Homo sapiens: one gene and its partner. The protein of the gene in region 1 interacts with the protein of each later gene in a pairwise test. Each region holds a gene or a part of one and is shown in the gene's direction. Other genes may lie near its edges. The genes, in order: MOBP and WAC.

Region 1 (4,591 bases):
ATGTAATCCCAGCACTTTGGGAAGCCAAGGCAGGCGGATCACCTGTGGTCAGGAGTTTGAGACCAGCCTGGGCAACATGGCGAAACCCTGTCTCTACTAAAAAATACAAAAATTATTCAGGCATGATGGTGGGTGCCTGTAGTCCCAGCTGCTCGGGAGGCCGAGGCAGAAGAATAGCTTGAACCCAGGAGGTGGAGGTTGCAGTGAGGTGAGAGCGCCACTGCACTCCAGCCTGGGGGACAGAACCAGATTCCGTCTCAAAACAAAAACAAAAACAAAAATGTTAGTGTACAAAGAGATTTATAGTCAATGTTTGTAGTCTCACTGGATTACCTTTTCAAGGTTCCCTGGCTGATTCTTTACTGAGACAAGAGCCTAAAGAGAAACTTGGTGGTAATGTTGACATTTATATTACACTGTCATGGAGGGGGCGCTGGGAATTCAAAAGGCAAGGCTGCTGTTGGTTGGATTGGTTTCAGAAGTAAGCTTTCATCTTTCAAATCATTAGTGGGTAGTTCTAGTTCTACATATATAAAATAAATAGCAGAAGCAGAGTTACAGGACCCATGGCATTTAACAGAGCACAGAAAGGTGTGGCCCCACATTTTAGGTTAGGAAAATTATAAGAAAATGCCGGTGTCTAAGACTGAAGCCAATAAAATGTTAATTGAATGAGATTTATCATTCGCAGAAACTGTTCAACATAAGAGATGATTTATACGTGTTTTCATAAATGTGAATGCATAGGGTAATTGTCATGGAAACTTCCAAATTCAATGTTAGTTGTAACTAGACTGGATTAGACTCTTGCTAATCAAGTGTACAAGGGCATGCTTGTGTGAATTTTAGTTTTGGGGTGTATCTATGGGTATACATGAGTGTTTTAGGGAAGGAAGTGTGATCGGTATTTAATCTACATGGAGTATAAAAACTCCTGGAATTTGTCAATGTGATTGCAGCTGTGTTCATGGCTTATGGGTATGGCTTGTGATGTGTGAGTGAGGTATGGGGTGCTGGGTGGGATGGCGCTGTGGTGGCATAGCATGTTGGTGGAAGGGTGTGTGGTTTGGTAGGGTGAGCTGGTGTGTGGTGTGGTTGGACCTGGCATGGAACTTAACTGGAGTTTATGTGGAATGAACCTTGAGGGGTGAGTTTTCACATGGGGTGTTGATTATGTGGGAGGTGGGAGGCTGGAATATGTGAATGTTGGGGGGCTGTAGAGTGAATGTGGGGTGCGTGTGTATGTGTGTGTGAGATATGGTTATAGCTTAGCTTAGCTTTTGTTTAGATTTTCTTTTGCTCTTTGTTTTTGTCTTTGGCCTTTGTTTTATCTTTGTTTCGCTCTTTGTTTAAACTTTCTTTGGCTTTTGTTTGGTCTTTCTTTAGCCTTTTGTTTAAACTTTGTGTGGCCTTTTTGTAGTCTTTGTGTAGCTTTTGTTTTTAAGTGGATCTTCGCTGAGGACTCATCAAAAACACCTTGTGTAATGAAAAACCCAGATCTATAACCTCTCCCTATATATTCTGCATGCATTGAAGTAGGCTCAAACCCTCAGGGACCTGGTATAGACGCAGAATCTGTTTCACACAACAACTGCTATTTGAAGGTAAGAGGATTCCATTGGTTTTTATTTTACTTCATTTTATACTTTCATCTTTAAATGACAAGTGTACTTTTTTGTATGGGCCATTTCATTATATCCCAGGGAAAACTTTCTGTAAGAATAGTCAAGATTGAGAGGACATACAAGGATGGAGAAAACAAGAACAGAGGACACCATGTTTATTCTGATGTGGGCAGGGGGCCTCCTGGAATGTTCCTGCTAATGTTTGGAAATCGTCTGAGCCCAGAGAGAGGCTCTGAGCCCTTACTCAGATTTCCTCAGATTCAAAGCCCCATGTTCCTGGAGCTAGATGGATGGTAGTACATGCTGCTGCTGCTGCTGCTTTTTTTTTTTTAATTTATTTCTTCTTTTATTATTTGTCATGATTTAAAAATGAGTTTTTCTTCTTATCTAGGAACAATTTTTTTCCTCATACAGTTGGATTTATGTGTGGGGGATCTTAATGGAACAACAAAGCCCAAATCTTTTCGGAATTCTGCCCCCTGTAGACCAACAACCTTAAATGGAAAGGCGCTAATGCTTTGTCTGATACAGAATATCTTAGAAACAACAGGGAGTTTTCAGTTCTATGGATGACAGAGAAAGGAAAAAATATTATGTGTCAGGGAGGCGAGTAATGAACTTGGCCTACAGTACTAGCAGGAAAACGGGGAAAGGACTTTTTAATTCTTTGTGAATAAATCAGGGAGGCAGAGAGCAGGCTGCTGCCAGGTGTGCGGATATGCTGTTTCGTATTTAGAATGACAGGAAACTTGTTGGTGAGTGAGTTTTAAAAATTGTTTCAGATTTTCAGAAAAGTTGCAAACAATACAGAAAATTTCAGGTGCAGCCAAATTACCCAGATGTTCCTGTTTTACCATATTTCCTTTATCATTCTCTTTCTCTCTCTCTGTATCCATACATATGGGTGTATATATAAAAATATGTGTGTGTATATACATATATACATATGTGTGTGTATATACATATATACATATGTGTGTGTATATATACATATATACATGTGTGTGTATATATACATATATACATGTGTGTGTATATATACATATGTGTGTGTATACATATTACATATGTGTGTATATATACATATATACATGAGTGTGTATATATACATATATACATATGTGTGTGTATATATACATATATACATATGAGTGTGTATATATACATATATACATTGTGTGTATATATACATATATACATATGTGTGTGTATATATACATATATACATATGTGTGTGTATATATACATATATACATATGTGTGTATATATATACATATATACATATGTGTGTGTATATACATATATACATATGTGTGTGTGTATATACATATATACATATGTGTGTGTATATATACATATATACATATGTGTGTGTATATACATATATACATATGTGTGTGTGTATACATATATACATGTGTGTGTGTGTATATACATATATACATGTGTGTGTATATACATATATACATATGTGTGTGTATATATACATATATGTGTGTGTATATGTATAGATATATATACATATGTGTGTATATGTATATATACACATATTTATATCTAATTAATTTTAATTAAAATTTATTTTAATTGGAATTAACTAAAATTTATTTTAATTGGAATTAATTAAAATTTATTTTAATTGGAATTAATTAAAATTTATTTTAATTGGAATTAATTAAAATTAGAAAATTACTATTGAGAAAATACTGTTTTTAAATCTAGAGATATCTAGATTTCATCAATTGTCCAAGGAGCGAATTGAGAACCATGCATGACCTTTTGTTGTCCTGTCCCCTCAGCCTCCTTTAGTCTGGAACCACACCTGAGGCAGCTTTGACCTAGACAGTTTTGGAGAGTATAAGCCAGTTATTTTGCTAAATGTCCCTCAATATGGGTTTGGTCTGCAGTTTTCTCACAATTATGCAGTTTTCAAAGGAATAGGCTTGCATTTTAGATCATACATATCCAAATTCATACTTGAATCTGAGTATACAATTTTTAAATTCAAGATCTTGTTTACCTAATAGTTACTAGGATTTTAAATGAGTACCTAAAATCTTTGTACACCAAATTGCCAAAAATTAAAAATCTAGAGCTTTTACAGATAATTTCCAAGGAATCACCAAAAGTGTGTAAGTATTGCCCTTGGATTATAAATAGCAATTACAGTGACCTGTATGTGATCTTATAGGCTTAAAGTGAGGTATTCAATTTAGATTCTTTGTGTGTGTTGGAGTCATGTCTACTGCTCTCTGAGTATTAGTTTCATAAATATAATAATTCCTTTCTAAGTGCAACCATCTGCTGAAAGCAGATACAACTCAATAGAGTTTCCCTGGGTAGCCACTCCAGGCTGGCTGGCATCCTTTCGCGGGTTGACGGGGACGTCTGCCCTAGTGGAGGAGGCGGACCTCTGGCAACGCTGCAAAAAGTCTCCTGATCAAAAGTGTTTCCTACATGTTCTAGTACTCACACCTCAGCACTGAACTACAGACCACACCCATATTGAGGGACAACTAGCAAAATAACTGGCCAAAACTGTTAAAAACTGTCCCCTTATGGGGACAGGAATCAAAACTCTGAGATCCTTCAGCTGTACCAGACATTCGTAAAACAAGTCTTCTCAACAAAATCTGTGAGGTAGGAACTATCATTCACATTTTACAGAGAAGAAAATTGAGATCCAGAGACTAGCCTATGATTACACACAGCTAGTGAATGACAGAGCCTGGAACTCAAGTATGATATAAGCCTATTGAATTTATGGATGAGATGCATTATTCTTTTTTACTAATACATCACACACTTTACTTTAAAGTTACAAAAATTTAAGTTAAAAAGATGAGCTGAAAATGAACTAAGCAATATTTTAAAATAATTTTTATTAATGGTATAAAATTATTTGTACTCACTAAAAATATCAGTTGTATTTTTAATGAGAGTAATTGAGTTCAATGTCAAATTT
Region 2 (3,828 bases), on another chromosome or scaffold:
GAAATAACAAAGAATGAGGATAATTTCAGGGGGATATTAATACTAGTTTAATTCATGCAGTAAGTAGAAATAAAGAGTTTATTTCATTATTAATATTAATCAGGATGCCCCCAAGTTGTGTGTGAAAGAACCTTTAAGAGGGATGTGATCTGGAGAATACTGCTAATATGCTCTATAATTGATTGCCCCATAAAATACAATAGCTGACAGCAGTTTTTTGGTTTTTTTTTTTTTTAGACAGGGCCTCACTCCCATTGCCTAGGCTAGATTGCAGTGGCTGAATCACGGCTTAATGCAGCCACGACTTCGTGGCTCAGGTGGTTCTCCCACCTCAGCTTCCTGAGTAGCTGGGACCACAGGCGCAAGCCACCACAGCTGGCTAATTTTTTGTATTTTTAGTAGAGACGGGGTTTTGCCGTGTTGCCCAGGCCGGTCTTGGAAATCCTGGGCTCAAGCCTTGCAAAATGCTGGGATTATAGGCGTGAGCCACCACGTCCATCTGACAGCAGAATTTTCGCAAGGAAAACATTTATCGTTTTATTTGAGTTTCTTTATGCTTGTCTATGAATCCAGAACAGTAAAGCTGAAAATAATAGGCAGTCTGCTGGATTCAAGCACCTTCCTTTAAAAGTGTATACCCTTACGCAAATAAAAATATCTTAGTCCTTCTGAGTTCATCATGGTTAATCAACACATTTTTGAAATGTACTTAAATCAGCTGTGAGATCCACACTTTAGAGAGCTATTATCCCTAGTTCTTTCGACCATTATAGTAGTGTAAAAAGACTCATAGGGGAGTCTGTTTTCAATAAGCTTGCTAGTACTGTATATATGATCTTGAAAATCTTAAAGAAATAGGTTGTTTCTAGTTTTATACTAAAAGCAAACAGAGTGCTGTTGTGATAGTCTTTGAATTTTCTCCTGATTTACATATATCTGAGTTTCACTGAGGGTGTGTACCTAAAGGGGAATTACTGGGTCATGTAGTGTTCGTATCTTCAACTTTTCTAAATAATGCCAAATTACTTTCCAGTGTGGTTATATCAATTTATTATCCATCAGAAATGTTGAGTAAATGTTCTCATTACTCTTTGCCAACATTTGGTATGTCTGACTTTAAAATTTTTGCATTATGGTGAGTGTAAAGGGTTATGTTGCTTTATTTTACATTGTCCTGATTCTGAATGAAGTTGAGCATCTTTTCTTGAATTTCCTAGGCATTCAAGTTCCTTCTTTGAAATAATGTCTTCTGTACATTTTTCTATTGGGCAGTTTGTCTATTTTGACGTATAGAAATTCTTTAAATAGTCTGATTACCACTACTTTGAATATAATTGTTCTGCTTTTTGTAACTTTACACATCTGCTTGGTGTTATGGATACCTTTCTGTGTTTTCCTCTAAGAGTTTTAAAGACTTAAATACCTACACAAAAGTTCAGTCTACCTTTAACTGGCTTTGTTTTAAATGTAAGTTTTTATATTTGGCAGGGCATGTCCTGCTGGCAGTGTTCTTTTTCTTCAGGTTATGGAATCTTCAGGATTTATGTTACTAGCTTGTCAAATAGTATTAACAGTGCTCTTGGGGCTTTGATTACAGTTACATTAAATCTATATAAATAATTGAAACAACAGCTTTCAAATAATTTTCCATGCGTATTTTATACATCCTTTATTTCTAAATACTATGAGGTGGGTTGTTTTTAATATTAAAGTGTCCTTTTTAATAATCTTAAAATGAAACAAATAGCTCATTGCCTTATATATTGAATTACAAAAGGGAAGTATGTAGTTACAAAACTCAGTTATTAAGTATAAAAGTCTCTTCTCATCACATCTTTAGCCCATTTTGGGTGTAACCACCTTGGTGTACCTACCCTGATTTGTATTAAGACCAGTGTCTTATTGAGGTAGGTTGTTACTGTGGCCATAAACATTTTTCACCTTATTTCATGAGATATAAATTAAATCCTGTAGAATTATATTGTCCTTTTATCCTAATGGAAGCTTATTTGAATGTGTGGTTAATAAATAATTATCTTTGAGATAGCATTGGTGGTAGACAGATTGGTACTTTTCAAATCAGATATGGGTATGATTTACCAGGTTTTATGGCTTCAGGTTATCTAACCTTTCTTGTTCAGCTTTCTTACCTATGAAATAGGGTGAGAAATGTCTAAATCATTATTCTAGTCATGTGAATGTTTACTGAGCATCTTCTGTGTGCTCCAGTGTGTAAGGGTTAAATGAGATTACTTACGTTAGGTGCCTGGCACATGAGAGGTGTTCCTTTGATGTTTGTTCCAATTTTCTCTATTCAGGTAATTTTTCAGGCTGATTATCTTTTTATTTAGAATCTACATCAGGAGACAAACCCGTATCACATTCTTGCACAACTCCTTCCACGTCTTCTGCCTCTGGACTGAACCCCACATCTGCACCTCCAACATCTGCTTCAGCGGTCCCTGTTTCTCCTGTTCCACAGTCGCCAATACCTCCCTTACTTCAGGACCCAAATCTTCTTAGACAATTGCTTCCTGCTTTGCAAGCCACGCTGCAGCTTAATAATTCTAATGTGGACATATCTAAAATAAATGAAGGTAAATCTTCATAACAGTTTTTTAAAAATTTATTTGCATTGTGCAAAGTTATGTAAGTAGTAAAATCCCCAGTTTAGGAATGGTCTTTGTTTTCTTTTGAAATTTATAGTTGAACACTTTTTTTTGTTTTGTTTTTTGTTTTTGGAGTTTGGAAATTTATATCCACTGTAGTTTAAGACCATTGGTAGTATAATTGAGTTAGTGGTGCTTGGATCTTGTGTATATTTTTCAATACTTGTTATGTGTCTGGTAGTTACTGGAGGTAAGCCATTCTATATACATAATGTGTATGGTGAAATTTTACATTAAAACAATCGAGCGTTTGTTGAAATCGGTATTAAAACTTCTGGTATGTTTCTAAAAAACCTGTATAAATAATTACTCAGAATATTTAAAATATGCTAATTACTAGAAAAGTAGGAATTCAGGTAGCTACTTAAAATACTTTCAAAAAATTCTGAGAAGGGAGGAGATAGGTACTAGATAAAATGTTGCCATTTTTTTCCTGGTGAATTGCATTATTTAATTCCAGCCTTGCTTTTCAGTAATGCTACTTACGTTTCAGAATATTTAGTCAGCCACTTTGAAAAAGTATGAATAAAAGTAGATGTGTTAATTTGGAAACTATTCAGATTCACACGTTAATTCCTAAAAGCACTGCAAAATTTTCTGTTGAAAATGATAAATTTTTAGGCCGAGGCGGGTGGATCACCTGAGGTCAGGAGTTTGAAACCAGCCTGACCAAGATGGTGAAACGCTATCTCTAATAAAAATACAAAAGTTAACCAGGCGTGATGGCACATGCCTGTGAATCCCAGCTACTCGGGAGGCTGAGGTACGAGAATCGCTTGAACCCAGGAGACGGAGGTTGCAGTGAGCTGAGATGGTGCCTGTACACTCCAACCTGGCTGACAGAGCAAGACCCCATCTCAAAATAAATAAAAATAAAGTGATCAATTTTTATGTACATTTTCACATAATATACTTAAAAGTAGTGTTAAGTGGTTAAGTTCTTATCCTAAAAATAAAGCTATCTCAGGCTAGTTGGTCATTAGTCTGTTCTTACTGTCCTTAATTTTTTTGTATTTTTATTTTATTCTCTAACCACGCAGTTCTCTTGTGTGGTAGGTAAATGTTTCATTTAGGCAAAGTGGGGCTTTTAGATAGTTTGAGGAGGCCAGATGCAGTGGCTCATGCCTGTAATTCCAGCACTTGCTGAGGCTGGTGGGCC

What was found.
Region 2: the proteins of MOBP (region 1) and WAC interact in a two-hybrid assay, tested with the Homo sapiens proteins (one large-scale study listed by BioGRID).

What each region holds. Positions count from the first base shown.
Region 1 is NC_000003.12:39,466,137-39,470,727, forward strand, and holds the start of MOBP (myelin-associated oligodendrocyte basic protein), read left to right. Parts: upstream 1-1,543; 5' UTR 1,544-1,604; intron 1,605-4,591. UniProt on the Homo sapiens protein: May play a role in compacting or stabilizing the myelin sheath, possibly by binding the negatively charged acidic phospholipids of the cytoplasmic membrane.
Region 2 is NC_000010.11:28,605,835-28,609,662, forward strand, and holds part of WAC (WW domain-containing adapter protein with coiled-coil), read left to right. Parts: intron 1-2,351; coding exon 2,352-2,597; exon of another isoform or gene 2,598-2,608; intron 2,609-3,828.